Regions from separate parts of the Homo sapiens genome. Here region 1 is linked to region 2. Evidence: fine-mapped QTL for protein levels in blood plasma. Region 2 holds a variant in brackets. A gene starts in the other region. All regions are shown on one strand. Distances are between the middles of the regions.

Region 1 (8,322 bases), 28 Mb before region 2:
GAACTAGATCAATGCAAATTTTGTGGGCAAAATAGAATTTCTGTGGGTGTGATATTTTTAAGATGTATTGTAAGGCTGCTCTGAACCATCCAAGCATATCCCACTGAATTTAAACATTCTCTAAAGGTCCTGAAGTCAGCAACTACAATCCAGGTGAACCAAAAGTTGCTCCTCTATGTCATAGAAGCCTACAGGAGAGGCAGTAGGGTGGGAATGGAGCAGAGAGATCCCAAGAAGTTATGGGTAAATATTTTTTAAATCTAAACATTCAGAAAAATAAGAGAGACTAGGAATCACTCTCCTCCTCCTCTCCACCACACCAAAAAAAAAGGAATAATAAGAAAGTGAAAGGAAAAATAGTTTTAGGTTAAATTTCATCACCATCTGAAAGAAAATTACTCCGATTTTGTTTAAGCAAGAGAAGAATTCAGCTGAGAAATTATCTAGCAGGCAGCAAAATCAGGGAGTCACTTCCCATTGCAAAGCAAAAGAAAACAAGGAGCAAGAGGATGGTCCTGGATAGCTGTTTAGACAATCAGACATACTGCTAACATCTCCTTGCCTTAGAAACTCCGTGATGTTTAAATTAACAATTGGCCACAAGCCAAACACAGGAACACTCAAAAGTTTAGAAGGGTGTGCTGCAACTGGTACCTTAGCAAAACACAATAATAAATTAAGAGGATTCAAGAAGCCTTCACTGTAGACTCTAAGAAGATTTAAGATTTGTACCGAGAAACGGCTTCTAAATCTCTTCTACTGCATTAGTTTAGCATCTAAAGAACACCTGTCTAAAAATCAAAATATCTAAATCCTATCCTTTGAGTCAACTTGACTAACACTCAACTTGACTACCTAAAAGCTAGCTAATAATCGCAGCACCTCAGCAGAGCAGAGGTGGAGGGCATAGTTTTATGCACTGAGATCCTATAATAAAAGAAGCCCTATGTGTCAGAGTAATCCCATTTCTGATATCATATTATTTAATACTTAATTTTTCAAATCACTTTACAATTATATTTATTATTCCCTACAATTCTCTAAAGCAGGTTATTCCTTTAGTCCTGCTTCATAGGTGAGGAGACTACATATCATGAAGATTAAGTTATTTACCAAAACAAGTTAATGATAGACCAAGGATTATTACCCTCAGACTGTCTCATTGATCATACTCCTCTCTATCCTAAAGCTACACTTAAAGCTTTCACTCAAAGAAAAAGGAAAAGCAAAAACACCATCATATATGCTCTTTATTAAATGCTTCAGAAACAACGGCTCTGCTTCATCACTACAAAGCCTCCTGGTCCACTTCTGAAATTCTTAGTGACCTAGACGTGTACGAAATTTGAACTTTCCAAGAAGTATCTAGTTGGTGCTGAACAACCCAGTACTATTTTCGGGTGATAAATAACCTTGTTCTCTTTTTAAACATCTGCGATTGACATGTCGACTGACTGTTAACAATGAACAAAGACCATATTTTTCTGAAGCTCATCATCTTCCTAACCTTTTCTTTGAAAACAGATGTAGTTCATGTACTAGTTTTTTGGTGAAGGTAAAAATCTTTATTCAGATTAGGCTCAGAAAAAGAAGGGGCTGCTTTCCGTTCAACAAATATGCACAAGACAGCATCCCACTGGGAGCATCAATCTCAGAAGCAGTAAAACACAGCCTCGGCCCTGAAAGGACTTTCTGAACACCTTTGGAGTGTCATCCGTTTAATATACATTATTTTAATTAATCCTATTAGCTGGATAATTTCTTTCCCATTTTATTGGTGAGTTCATATAGCAGAGCTGGATTTGAATCCAGGATTACAGAGCAGGGCTCCAAAGCCCAAGTTATTTCCACTAAAGGGTCTGAAGAAATGTAGAATCTAAAAGTGTGGGTGGGATGGGGAAGATATGATTTGATTCCCTTTCCTTGGTCCAACCGTGTTAGAAACATCCAACCATAAAGAAGCTTTCTAAGGAAGCCCTTTGAATTAACGTATCCACTTTTTCTCACCCGCCCGTGCCCCACCCCCAGCCATGCCAAAGGAGCAGCAAATGCTGCTGCCAGGTTGGAGGAATTGGTGATCGTCACACCACATTCCTGGGTCTGGACACAGCCTGAAACAGCAGCAGAGCTCCGCGCCTCGGAAAGAATAACAGCAGTTGAGATTTTTAAATCATGTGCCTCAGCATGCAGCCACACCAGTTGCCCTACTTCTCCTGCCTCCACCTTTCAAAGACGCGAGCAGCACACACGGCTCCCCCGGACTTTCGGTGGGGTTGGAGTGTCAAAACTCAGGCGCGCCGCAAAACCCCGTCCCCATCCAAACCAAGCCCACACACCCGGCCCATGTGCCGCCCCCTGGCAAAGGCGAGGCTGGCTGCGACGGTGCAGGCCGTTTGGCTTGGCGGCCCTGCCCCCGCTCTCCACGCCAGAATCTGGCATTCCTTCGCTCAGCCCCTCCGAGGCCCGCCGTCGGCTCTCGCTCGACCCCAAGAAACGCGGAACCTGAAGGGCAAAACTGCCCACCTCCCTGCACCCTGGCACTACGAAAAAGGAGTTTCTGAGACTTGCTGCCGGCCTCCCTCCTGCCGAGGAGGCGTGTAAGGGGTCCCGGGCCGCGGGGAGCAGAGGCGGCGGGGAACCCCGGCGGTTGGCGGGGCACCACGGGAGGGGCCCCCGGCGATGTCCAAACTCTTGGGAACCCAGCGAGTGGCCTCGCTCCGCGCCGGCGGCCGAGCCTGGCCTTCCCACACAGAGAAGGACCGAGGGGGAGAAGGGTCGCCCCAGGTGGCAGCCCCGGGCGCCGCGGACAGCGCCCCTCAGCCCGATACTCACCATGCGCGGGGGCCGCGCAGCACAGCCAGAGCGCCAGCAGCGCCCACAGCAGAGCGGGGCGCAGGGCGGGCATCTTCTCGGTCGCCTCCTCCTCCGCCGCCGCCGCCGCCGCCTGGGCAGATCCACATGGGGAGGGGGTCCCGATAGAGGAGCCCCACTCTCTCCTCCCCTCCTCCTGCTTCAAAGGCTCAGGCCCTGGCGCTACGCTCCGAAGCCCAGGCGCAAATGCCTCGACTCCCCGCGCCCCGAGTCCGCCGCTCCTCGGCCGCCGCCTCAGCCGCCGCCCGAAGTTTGGCTGAAACTTTCTCGGGTGTGCAACGAAGCAGCCTCGTGTGTCCTTCCGCCTCAGCCGCCTCCTCCCACCGCAAGCCCCGCCCCACTGTCGCCGCGGCCTCGGCCCCGCCGCCTTGGGCACCCAGGGGTTTCCCGCAGGAAGAAGCGCCGGCCCGAGCTCCGCGCGGAGGGATCTACTACGAGTCACTGGCCCCGTCCGCATCCTTCTCCAGCGGCCCCGGGGGCCGCCGCGCCTTAACTCGATCAGGGCTGCAGCGGCTCGCTGGCTTGACCAGTGCAGAAGGGGCGTGGGGGTGAGGGGGGTGGGGTAGGACTCTGAACTTCAAGCACTGGAGTTTGCCGGGATCGTGAACTTGCAGGGAGAGGCGGTCCTCATCCAGTGAGGTCTGTATCGCCACCTACACCCACACATCCACACACTGCTTTGCTAGCTAGAGGAATGCTCTGGAGTAGGACCAGTGCTGTCAAAGAAGGAAAGTGGGCCAAGGCGCCAAAGTCCATTAAAAAGGAATAGAGCCATCACGGAGTGGTGCTGCCCCATTCATTCATTCATTTGTTCATCCGTGTAGCGAATATTTCTTAAGTGCCTTACTTTGCGTAGCTGTGTGCTTGGCAGTGGGATGATACCAAAGATGCACAAGCAACTTTGAGTACCAAGACTTTGCCGCTGTGGGCTGGGGGATTCAGGGAAGGCTTTCCCAGAGGAGCTGGGATGAAAGCAGGATCTTGAAAGGTCAGTAAAATTTGTATAAGACAAGGAGACCAGCTAAGCTAAGGATATTCGTTGTAACACTGTAATAGCAAAACCTTGAAAACAACATAAATGCCCACCCTTAGAGGAATGGATGAATAATGTATGGTATATTTATAAAATGAAATGCAACACAGTAATTGAAAAGACTATAGCTATTTATGTCAATAGGGATAAATCTTAAAAACTAAATGATAGTGAAAAAACTAATCACAGAGGGAGACAAAGTATACCATTTATGTATATTTTTTTCAAGACAATACTACACATTATCTGTGGATGCATATATATAGATATAGATATTAAGAGACTATAACCAGAATAGTAGTTACTTCCAGGGCAGGAGAGTAGGGGGTGTGATCAAACCTGGGTACAAGTGGGCTTCTAAGAAAAGAGCTAAAAGTAAGAACAGCAACAATAGTTGTATGGACATATCATTCCAGGAAAGAGCCCTCGTGAAAGCAAAGGTACAGTCAAAAGAGTAAGTAAATGAGTTCTGTCTCTGTTAGCAGTGAGAGGAGTCAAGGACGGAAAGGGGGTTGGGACCAAATTATGCAGCCTTGAATGGCAAGCTGAAAGGGTGGGGAGGCAGCTACCTCTTAGGTCACATAAAACTATTGAAAGTTTTTGAACAGAGTTGAGATTGATGGAAAGGAAGATTGCTCTGATAATTCTGTAGAAAATTGATTGTTGGGGGAGCAAGAGGTGAACTGGAGCCCCAGGACCAGTCAAGAGTTGGTGAACAGTCCAGGCACAAATTTAAGAAGACCTGAACTAATAAGGTAGATTTCAGAAGGAATGAATCCGAGACAATGTTAAAGAAACAGAAAAAAAAAATGGAGGTGTGACTAATTGGATGTGGGAGTTTACAATCCTGTTGGGATGGGAAATCCTACCCATAGAACCTCTCCCTGACTCCTATAGGATAAAATTCAAACTTCTAAACATGGTACATACAAGGCCTTTTCGTCATTGGGCCCCATCTCCTGTCCTCCCTGCCCCTGTTGTGAACTTCACACAATAACAGTATTGACTAACTTGAGATTCCCCCAAACATATCTTGCTGTTTCTGTCCCTGTATCTTTTGTTCCTTTGGCTTGGAATGACTCCTGTAGTCCCCTTCCCTCCTCCTCTTAATGAACTTCTAATCATAATTCATCCTTCAGTCCAAAGAAGGCTTTGCCGACACCGCAATAAATTCCTCCCCCTAACAGACAGTCCCTCCACTGTCTTCCACTGCCGCTTCTTTATCTTAACACCGATACTTATTTTTCACACAGGACTCTTTGTATTTCTGTGTTCTCAACTAAGTTTTGAGGTCCTCATGGGCAAAGACCACAGCCTATTAATCCCCAGTGTCTATCACATAATAGATGTTGAACTAGAATGTGAAACAACACTAAGCAAGTACAAGTCAGTATGGGCATAGACCTATGAAGTTCCAAAACTGCATGTTAACAAGCACTTTAGGTAAGCAAGTACCATTAGTGAAAGTAGTCACATTGAAATACTGGAAACCCTTTTCAAAAATAATGTAGTCAAAATATTTTTGGAATTTGTCTTGTGCAAGTATGTTCAGAGAAAGATAACATTATTTTTCAGTTGTTTACCCACAGTGTTACCAGTTCGATCTTCCTCTTTACTCACTAAAGATAATTCATAGTGACTTGGCTGCATACAAATTTTAAAAATCACCTGCAAAGATAAGTTTTGTCACTATTAAAATATATTCAGAAGAATATAAGATAGTTATCCCCAAAGAGCAACTCTAGAAGCGACTGTAGCTATGACAACATTATTAAAATAAATGTGCAGGCCAGGCGTGGCGGCTTATGTCATAATCCCAGCACTTTGGGAAGCTGAGGTGGGCAGATCACCTGAGGTCAGGAGTTTGAGACCAGCCTGGCCAACATGTTGAAAACCCGTCTCTACTAAAAATACCAAAAATTAGCCGGGCATGGTGGCGAGCACCTGTAATCCCAGCTACTCAGGAGACTGAGGCAGTAGAATCACTTGAACCCAGGAGGCAGAGATTGCAGTGAGCCAAGATCGTGCCACTGTACTCCAGCCTGGACAACAAGAGTGAAACTCCGTCTCAAAAAAAAAAAAAAAAAAAAAATAGGTATGCAGTTTCTCAAAGTAACCGTTTTAAAGAAAGCAGCTATTATGTTCACATATAACTTTTGTTGAATATGTTACAATATGAAAACTTACTGCATACATTCTGGTAAGGACAAGAGAAGTAAAGAGTAAATATGAATGGAAGTAAGGGAAAAATATGACTGAAGACATTTTTTAAAGATAAGTTTTAATGATAGAAAAATATGAATAAGGGCTACCAATTGTTTTAGTTTTAATCAAAACTAAAAATATACATCTATGTCTTTACTGATTTAAACTCACATAAAACTGCCTTCCAAAATAAATGCAGAATTGGGCACTTATTTGTTCTCATGTCTGTCCTCTCAGAGCCGATAAGCTGTAAAAAAAACTCTCAAAATAAAACTCTGTTTTATTTTCTGTTTTGCCTCGGTTTCTATCACATAAGTGCTCAATAATATATGTTTTACATAAATGCTGAATGAGGAACATATATATCTATATAAACTGGGGAACAATGCAAGACTGGAAGAATGTCTTGGTGTGTTGGAGAAGTTGAAGAAGAGATTGTGGGATAGCTATGACACATAGATTGAGCTACACCACGAATCTCTCCATGTAACCCAGGAACCCAAGGATATGTGATGAGATGTTTGTGGAAGCAGGAATTAAAAGGAAGATTTCTTTTAATAATGCCTTGCAGTTGCGCAGTGATTTAGACCTTCCAAAAACACTTTTAATTATATTATCTCATTTGATCCTCAAAACAATCGTGGGAAATAGGCACCCCAGTCATTATTATACCCATTTTGCAGATGAAGAAACTGAGATAGAGCTTTAAGTATCTTGCCCAAGGTTAAATAAGTAATTAGTGAGCTGAGACAAACCCCCCACTATTTCTGTCCTCTTACTCAGTCTCACTCCACTGTACCTTTGTGCAACAATGTGAAGCACATCCAAGATGATATTTAGTGTGGGGACCTCTGTGTAGAGGGACACCAGCTTCTTGTCACTTCCATGTTAGCACAGAACAAGCTGACCCACTGTAACTAGGAAACATAAACAAGTGAATAAATTCTTTTAATTTAAAATTTTTTTGAGAGCCTGTTCTCTACAAAGCACATACTAGGCTCTGCGGCAATGCAGAAATAAATAAAACCCAGTCCCTGTTCTTTGGAGATCACAGAGCAGTGAGGCAGGCCAACATACAAATAACATAACTACAACAGAGATAAAGCACAGGGATATGGGAAAGTAGAGAGCACTGGGATTAATTTTGAGTCCACTTTCCTCTCATCCAGTCCCCATCCTGAAAGATATGAACTGTGGTGGCCCACACAGCTGGACTGTAAGCCATGTGACAAGAGTCATTTCTTACCCCTTATTCATGTTTGTAAACTCCACAGTAGTTGGTTCTTTGCCTTGCACAGAGTATGTGCTCAATAAAGACCTACTTTCTGAAAGGTTCACAGAGTTCAGCCAAACACAGGACAAGTTCTAGAAGGCAAGAAGTTAACCTCAAGATTCAAACTAGCTCTGAGAATTAAGAACCAGCCAGACCCTTCCACTGAGCCTAGACCCAATTAATTACCTCTGCTCTAATTAAGGGAATCAGTAATGTAAGTAATTGTAATATGGGCGATATAGTTTGCCTGTGTCCCCACCCAATATCTTATTTTGAATTGTAATCCCCATGTGTCAAGGGAGAGACCAGGTGGAGGTAATTGAATCATGGGGGCGGTTTCTCCCATGCTGTTCTCCTGATAATGAGTGAGTTCATGAGATCTGATGGTTTTATGTGTTTGGCAGTTCCTCCTGCATTAATTTTCCTTCATGCTGCCTTATGAAGAAGGTACCTTGCTTCCCCTTTGCCTTCTGCCATGATTGTTAAGTTTCCTGAGGCCTTCCCAGCCATGCTAAACTGTGAGTCAGTTAACCTGTTTCCTTTATAAATTACCCAGTCTTGGGCAGTTCTTTACAGCACTGTGAAGACAGACTAATACAGTGGGCTTGTTGACATAGTTTTGCCCTTTTATGAATGTGATTATCTCAATTTTATTGATGTTAAGGAAGGACACAGTGGCCCACACCTGTAATCCCAACACTTTGGGAGTCCAAGGCAGAAGGATGGCTTGAGCCCAGGAGTTCAAGACCAGCCTGGGCCACAAAGTGAGACCCTGTCTCTACAAAAAATTAAAAAACTAACTGGGCATGGTGATGCATGTCTCTAGTCCCAGCTACTTGGGAGGCTGAGGTGGGAGGACCACTTGATCCCAGGAGGTTGAGGCTGCAGTGAACCATGTTACCACTGCTGCATTTCAGCTCGGGTGACAGAGCAAGACCCT
Region 2 (8,337 bases):
CATCTTCTCCGGACCCACGTGACTTGGTCACCACAGAAAACAATTACAGATATTGGAGGACTTTAAAACATCCTAGAAGTTTAGCAGCTCATCCTAAGCCGCAGAATATCTGTGCGTAATGTCCACCATTTCCTTCGGTTGTACACCCCCTCAGTTAAGCCAGGAGGATGCCTCTCTTCTCAGTGGAATATCATACATCAATGTGTAGAAACGTTTGTTGTGCCGGCAAGTAAATGACAGAAGGGACATTGATAGAATTGGGAAACAAATTGGAATATGATTTGGTATCGCTCCCACGGAAGATAAATTTGCAGAATGTACTCAAATTAGAAGCATTAAATAAATGTTGTAATGTAAAAATGGCACATCCTCCTCTCTACACTATAGAAATATCTGCACAAGTGTCCAAAGATATGTGTACAAGAATAGTGGAGATTGCGGCATCATTTGTAATCCTAAAGCCATGAAACCCACCTCATTTCAAAAACATCTTGAAAAGGGTTAAATCATGCACAAACAGAGGAAGAAATGCTGTTTTCACAAACAATGGCGAGGATCACCATGAGGATGACTGATTCCACTGGTCACATTATTGATAGAGGAATTACTTAAACCCAGGCACATCCGGGGACAGAATACTACTGTAATAGGTCTCCTATTATTAAACATGAAAAACTAGAGGCACTTTACTCCCCCAAGTCTTCCATGGGAGCAAAGAACATTTTTATCACACCAGAAGTGAGTTCCTGTCTAAGGTCTCTGGGATTCTTGAGTTTGACAGGTACAAGGCACCATGGGCCTTGCCAAGCCTCAGACCTAAGAAGGTGGGGAAGAGGACATGTGTGTCTCCTGATTAGGCTGGAGTTGATTGTATATCAACAGAAATGGGTTAAAACAACAAAGCGAGGAGTCCCTGGTTGGGCTCGGACCACCAGCCTTTCTGTTAACAGCCAAACGCGCTGATTGCGCAACAGAGACCGCTGCTACTGATTCTACCGGGCGCTACGTGCAGGGCACACTCACCAAACTCTCCCCATCCCTTTTGTCCTGAGGGCCTGCCCCTCAGGAGGGAAAACCGGAGACATTAGAGCGGTGAGTCGCGCTGATCACGTTGCACACCCGCGGGTTGGGAGATTCTGGAGCCAGAAGGACAGCCGAATGGCCTTCGCCCGCCCTGCCCCTCGCCTGCTTCAGAAGCCCCCGGAAACGCCCCAGTCTGCGACCCGGGCCCGAGCCGCCTGGGGGCCCAAGGGAAGCTGAATGCCCGGTGGGCTCCCAGGATGGCTCTTCCAGTTCTTTGCGCCGCCTTCACCCCGTGAGGGAGCCTGTGCCCACACTGCCCAATCGCTTTAGGGGCCGCTGCAGAGCTTCCGCTGCCATCTTCGGATCCTGTGTCCGCAGGCGGGCTCCACCAGGGCAGGGATGGTGGTGAGAGTTCCTCGTGATCCCCTCGCAGGGAGCAGGGTCTGCCATTCACCAGGGCGCAGGACTAAGACTCGTCGAGTGAATCCATTGTCGCCTTTAACTTTTAGTCCTTTGAAGAGTCCTGAGAATGTAAATCATGAACTATTTTTCTGTGGGGAAGTTTTGTTTTGTTTTGTTTTGCGACAGGGTCTCACTTGGTCCCCCAGGCTGGAGTGCAGTGGTGCAAACAAGGCTCACTGCAGCCTCGACCTCCCGGGGCCAAGTGATCTTCTTGCCTCAGCCCCCAAGTAGCTGAGACGACAGGCGAGCGCCACCACGCCCGGCTAATTTTTGTATTTTTTGTAGATACAGGATTTCGACATGTTGCCGGGGCTCGTCACGAAGGGGAAGTAGGTTCTTTTTAAAAAGCATTTTTTCCGATTGCTTTATCGGGCATCCTGTGGGGCGCGCAAGCGGCGAGGCCTCCAGTGGCCTCTCTTGCCACTCTTAGGCAGGGAGCTGCGGGGACTCAGCTGCACTGTTTTTGGGTGCCTGTCTTGCGCAGGAGGCCGGAGCCGGGCAAGGGGTGAATCCAACAGGGAATTGCGAGGAGGAGGGCAAGGAAGTCGGTAGAGGCGTGGACCAGGAAGAAGAAACTTTCCAGTAGCTTTGTGCAGCGGTAAGGACTGCACAAGGGAGAGATGAGAAGTGTTTTTTTTATTGTAGCAGAATGGGGAAGAAAGGGGGGAAAAACGGAGAGACACCAAGAACGAACGAAATCTACGCGGACCCTTAGGTCTCCAAAAAGGAAGCAGCCCTGCATTACGTTTAAACAAAGAGCCCGGCGCCCTTCAGCTCCTGTGGCTTGCGGTGATCGTATTGTGGTTAGTACTCTGCGCTGTGGCCCCAGCAGCCTTGTCTCCAATCCGAGTCATGGCCACATCCATTCTAGGGTGTAGTGCTCTTCTTTCCCTTTCGCCTCCAGTCTCAGCCTAGGCTGAGCCTCTGACCTGCGGCTAGAAAGGTCACAACTTTCCTGTGGCTTAGGAACTCCCGGTAGTGTTGAGAATAGAAGGAACCCCTACGCTGCATGCCTAGGGGTCCGGTTATCTTGAAAGACTTTTGCCTCCTCTCTGAGCAAGTACAACACCCAAAAGATGAGATGCCCCCTCTCAGTCAGCCTTATTGGAATCTTTTACTGTTGACATGATATGGCTGTACCCGCTGTTCTGACTCAGATATTTCAAGAATCCGTGGGGCCTTTTCAGGCCAAATCAGAAATGAACAAGAGAAGATGAGAGTTCACACTCCAACTGGGTATTTTAAGTAAAACCTAACGAATACAGTAAAATCTAAAGTTAATGACATTCTCCAACCCCAATTTTTAATTTTGTTTTTATTTATTTATTTTTTGCTACCAATAAATGACTGAAGTATAATCCGCAGAGACCAAAGTGCACCAATCTTAAGTGCGTGGCCCAGTACATTTTGACAAAAAAAACCATCACCTAGATCAAGTTACAGCACATTTTCAACAGACCAAAAGGTCGTGAGAACCCCTTTTCAGTCAATCTTCACCCCATCCCCACTTAGGCAATCACTATTTGATTTCTATCTCTGTGGTATACTTTTACTTCTTGTAGAAATCACGTAAAGGACTATACTGATTTTGCCTGTGTTTTTCTTTTTTTAAATGCAACAATTGTTATGAGATGCTTCCATTTTATGACATGTATCTCAGCTCTTTGCTGTTATTAATGAGTGTTATTCCAACATGTGAGTATACTACAGTTGATAGACAATTGGGATATTTCTAGTTTGGGCTATTGTGAATAAGGTGTTTACAAATATTCTATTATGGGTCTCTTTATGGGCCTGTGCCTTCAATTCTGTTGAGCATGAACCCAGCAATGGAATGGCTGGGTCATGAAGTGGGTGTATTTTTAACTGTATTAGAAACTATCAGACAGTATTTTAGAATGGTGGCACTATTGTATTCTCTTTTATTTTGTTTTGTTTTATTTTATTTTATTTTTGAGACGGTCTCACTTTGTCACCCAGGCTGGAGTGCAATTGTACAATCTCTGCTCACTACAACCTCTGCCTCCCGGGTTCAAGCAATTCTCCTACTTCAACCTCAACCTCCCAAGTAACTGGGATTACAGGTGCCTGTCACCACGCCCAGCTAATTTTTGTATTTTTAGTAGAGATGGGGTTGCACCACATTGGCCAGGCTGATCTCAAACTCCTGACCTCAAGTGATCCACCTAGCTCGGCCTCCCAAAGTGCTGGGATCTCAGGCGTGAGCCACCACTCCCACCAATACTATTGCATTCTCTTGCCAGCAACAAGAGTTACAGTTGCTCTGCATTTTTATAAGCCAGTGGCTTTCCCTGTCTCTTAAATGTTACCCATTCTGATGAGTGTGTTATGGAGTATCATGGCATTTTAAATTTGTGTTTCCTGAATGAGTAATAATGCCAAGAATCCTTTCTTATGCAATTTGGCCATTAAGAAATTCTCTTTGGTAAACAAACACTGTTCAAGTGTTTTGCCCATTTTACATTGGCTTGACTCTTTTCTTCCTCCCCACATTTATACACAAACTTTTCTATTTGAATAGAAAAGTTGAGAAGATAGTACACAGAATGGAGTAAAGAGGATGGAATGGGTTTTTGGAAACCAATTCACACTTTAAAGTTGTTTTAACATCCTCCATCCCCAAAGAACAATGTATGTTTTCTGAAGACATCTCCTTATTGAAATATGCAGAGAAAGTGTGAGATAAAAGAGCATATACTAAACTCCTCAGAACGTGTTTCTGGAAGTGGACAGGGAAATGGGAGTGGGATAAACA[G/A]AGAAAAGAAGGAAAGACAGTAAGGGCCTTGCTCAAAGCAGCCACCATAATGTGCCCTGAGCTAAGGTACATGATTACCTTCTCCCTGTGCACCTGAGATCTAAGAAAACATATTAACTAATCAGGGACATGGATTTCAAAAACACTACAGAAAAACAGAAAATTTACCCAGACAGACCAGTCTAGTTAAGAAAGGCAGGAAGAGATTTTATAAACAAAGCAAAAACGCAGAAATCATACAATGAGGTGGTGGGAATGAGACGTCATCTCCAATATAATACTAATTGCTGCAAATTACAATGCACTTAAGTCTCTCAGATGGGATAGAAAAGGAAATGCCAGCTCTAATGGTTTAATGGGCAGAAAAGGGTAAAATATTCAAAGAAGTGCACATTATTATATATATGTATATATGTGTATATATATGTATATATGTATATATATGTATATATGTATATATATGTATATATATATACATATATATATAATTTTTTTTTGAGATGCAGTCTAGCTCTGTCACCAGGCTGGAGTGCAGTGGCACGTTTTCAGCTCACTGCAACCTCTACCTCCTACGTTCAAGTGATTCTTCTGCCTCAGCCTCCTGAGTTGCTGGGACTACAGTCACAAGCCACCATGCCCAGCTAATTTTTGTATTTTTAGTAGAGACAGGGTTTCACCTTACTGGCCAGGCTGGTCTCGAACTCTTGACCTCATGATCCACCCACCTCCGCCTCCCAAAGTGCTGAGATCAGACATGTGAATGACTGCGCCAGGTCAAAAGCAGTGCACATTATCTTAGCAAGCTAATGCAGAAACAGGAAACCAAACACTGAAGTTTTTATCGTTTCTTAAAGGCCAAGTGTGAACTATTGTGACAGCTTAGTCTGAGAGTTCCAGATACATAGCATGGTTTTTGCCCATTTGCTGGGTCTTTCCTCTCACATCCTAAGTGCTGAAAAGACACATGTGGCAGGGAAAGAGAGTTTCTTGAGCTTGCCACAGTGGTGGAGGCATATAGGTCATGATTGGCCACCACTAGAGTACAGGCACAAAATCTGGTTGCTTCTCTCACATGAAACAAAAGGCATCTACCACTGATGTTGGAGCAAGGAACCCTTCCAACCCTGGCCTATAGCTGGCCCCAGGTATAGGCCAGCTGCTGAGGTAGAGTTAGACACAAAAGCTGTCTATACTGGACAAGGGAAGACTTGCAATCAATCATTTGAGTTGGTTGCAGACCCTTTCCTTTAATGAGGAAAAACTGTGATGTGGGTACAAAGTTCCAACATCCAGAAAGATTGGCCTTGTCCTTAAGGATATTATGTTGATTGGATTTCTCTCAACCTCCTTCAGTTGTGTTTAGCATTATTAAAATTAAGTGACATTCACTTGGATGAAGTGGTAATAAAAACAAGCTGTGAGAATTTCTAGTGATTTTTGATACCAAGCCTTGTATCACTGTTGGGCTTTCATGTGTGTACTTGAAAACAAAACATGTAAATTGTTGCACTGGTTTGAAGATTTTAATGGTGAAAGCAACCTAATCAGTTATGAGTACCACATCGAGAAACCAACCTTGGAAATATGTGATTATGCTCTTTTAAAATAGCTGAAAAGAAAGATGGGTGTGGTGGCTCATTCTTATAATTTCAGCACTTTGGGAGGCTGAGTCAGGCAGATCACTGAAGGACAGGAGTTCAAGGCCTGGCCAACATGGCAAAACATCTTTACTAAAAACACAAAAATCAGCTGGGCATGGTGGTACACAGCTGTAATTCCAGTTACTCAGGAGGCTGAGGCAGGAGAATCCTTTGAACCTGGAACTTGAAGGCAGAGGTTGCAGTGAGCTGAGATCCTGCCACTGTACCCCAACCTGGGTGACAGAGGGAGATTCTGTCTCAAAATAAATAAATAAATAAAATAGCCAAAAAAAAACTGACTGTGTGTTTATTCTCACTTTGTTCTTGTTTTGTTGTATAATATTTAAATAAAAGGAGATTATTTATCCTCATACTGAATTTCCAAAACTGATATTTGCATTTAGTATTTTGTTAAATGATGGAGAGAAAATTTAATTGTCTTACTTTGAAAAGTTTGGCATAGGTTCTGTCACATTTTTGATGCTTTCGGTCACAGTTCTGTCATTAGAATGCTGGCAATTAGTTACATGCAAGGAGTATCCTAACCACTTTAATACGATGGTTTGAAGTGCTGCAGGCAGTAACTACTGGACAGCAGATCATAGTGTTTTTATCGGTGACACGTTAGAGAGAAATAGAACTTTCTGCAGTACAAATGTCCTATTAACTAATCCTTATGCTATTAGCTTACAGGGCTTTGTCTCCTGGGTCTGAAAAAGGCAGCTTCTCCTTCTAAATCCTGAATATTGACACCAATTAATGCCTTGTCTTCAGACTCTGGGGAAGATGACAAACAAAATGAACTGCTTTCACAAGACACAGAACCAGAAATTGAAACCATTCAATCCCTTTAGGCCCAACAATCCCACATGTCCCGTTTTCCACCTCATGCCCCCTCTTCCTCTAGACAGAAGAGGTGGGCACGTGAGAATTGTAGGCTGGAGTTTGAGGGATAAGTTTAGTTCAGAGACTTTCTTTTCTTTCCCTTTCTTTCTTTTCTTTTCTTTCTTCTTTCTTTCTTTTTTTTTTTTTTTTTTTTTTTTTTTTGTATTTTTGGTAGACACAATGTTTCACCATATTGCCCAGGCTAGACTCAAACTCCTAAGTTCAAGTGATCCACACACTCTGGCCTCTCAAATTCAGAGATTTTCTATAAATTAGACATTACAGTCAGGAGCACACTGATGCAAGGCCAACATCTGGGCTCGTGTATTGCAATATCAGGGTCTTCTAGAGCATTTATCTACTCCTTAATACAAAAGTATAAAAGGTTATGAAAGGTTTTTGGAACTCTTACCTCATGGTCAAACTGACTTTTTTTTTTAATGCCTCCTTATAATCTTTTTACCAAAGGTATATTTTAGTTTTCTTATACACCTTGCACATAAACTGTTTCTTTAATAGTACTCAGGAGGCCTTATTACTTTTAAATTATACAACTTTGTTTGCATAAAATTTTTTTATAACTTTTTTTCTTTCACGACTTCCACAGACAATTTTTCAACATGTCTCAACTTTCTGACTTATTACAAACACTTTTTTCTTTAAACAACCAGTTAATTTATTTCAGGACAAGAATTTACCACATAACTTTTTGTTTGTATAAATTCTGCTTCCTCCTTTTTTTTCCTTTTTTAAAGTGAACTTTCTTTATGTCTTTGGATAGACTGTCTAAGGCCACAAGATTAGAAGTTACCATAATACATGTTACACTGTTAACTTTTAGCAAACTTCACTTTTGTAGAAAACCTTGTAAGTTTGGGATTTCAATTGTCCTTTGCTATTAATAAGACCTTGTTTAGTCTAAATTAACTTAGAATTGGTATAGATGGCCTCTTTTTCTCTCTGATGGTCTTTACTTGCCTCTGCCAGCTGCTTATGCTGCTGTTCTCTTAACTACTGCGGGCAGGGAAAGGGGGTCTAAAACCAGCTGTAACTGTCCATGTACGGAAACTGGTCTGGGTGCCTTGGCTTAGAGGTTACCTTATGCCATACCTTTGAAACAAGGGACCTGTCCAGGCTTCCTTCTGATGGCCAACCTACATCTAATGCTGGCCAGTCTATTTCACATAAAGTTCTAAGTTTTTCTGGAGTCATAGTGACTCCATAGTCTCCATTGAATCCTTTCTTGAAATTTTTTAACATAGTTCCTAGTGGGGGGGGCTTATTTGTGCCTGACCCATGTTTCTTCAAGACAAAACACCACGCTCACACCACACGCCACACACCACAAAACAAAAAACAGGTAAAAAGGGCACACACACACTTCTGCAGTTTACACCAAACCAAAATCAAAACCAAAATCAGAGTATCCAGAAATCCAAGCCAGGTCAAAACCAAAACCGAAGTATCAGGCAATCTAAGTCAAGTCAAAAACAAAAACCAAAGTGCCGGTACAGGCACATTGTGGGTGATCAGGCCACGCTTCCACTCAAA

Which allele goes with the higher level. Alleles are on the strand shown, and positions count from the first base shown. The strength of an association depends on the size of the effect and on how common the allele is.
For the plasma level of the protein whose gene starts at base 3,161 in region 1, allele A in region 2 goes with a higher level than allele G (strong association).

What was found. PIP is the chance, under the fine-mapping model, that this variant and not a neighbour inherited with it causes the effect. Protein levels are from antibody-based Olink assays in UK Biobank. Linkage for the fine-mapping came from a reference panel and not from the study's own genotypes, which makes the PIPs less certain.
Region 1: it holds the start of NOTCH2, and the variant in region 2 is fine-mapped to the plasma level of the NOTCH2 protein (UK Biobank, PIP above 0.99).

What each region holds. Positions count from the first base shown.
Region 1 is chr1:120,066,502-120,074,823 of GRCh38, forward strand. NOTCH2 (notch receptor 2) reads right to left here and starts at 3,161. Exons shown (of 34, transcript NM_024408.4): 1 at 2,833-3,161. The coding sequence starts at 2,905. It overlaps LOC101929178 (a long non-coding RNA gene), which reads left to right and starts at 3,327. Exons shown (of 2, transcript XR_254374.4): 1 at 3,327-3,510.
Region 2 is chr1:148,316,461-148,324,797 of GRCh38, forward strand. LOC105371225 (a long non-coding RNA gene) reads right to left here and starts at 956. Exons shown (of 5, transcript XR_007066561.1): 1 at 1-956. RefSeq lists an enhancer at 2,550-2,599. The variant G/A (reference allele first, on the strand shown) is at 4,262.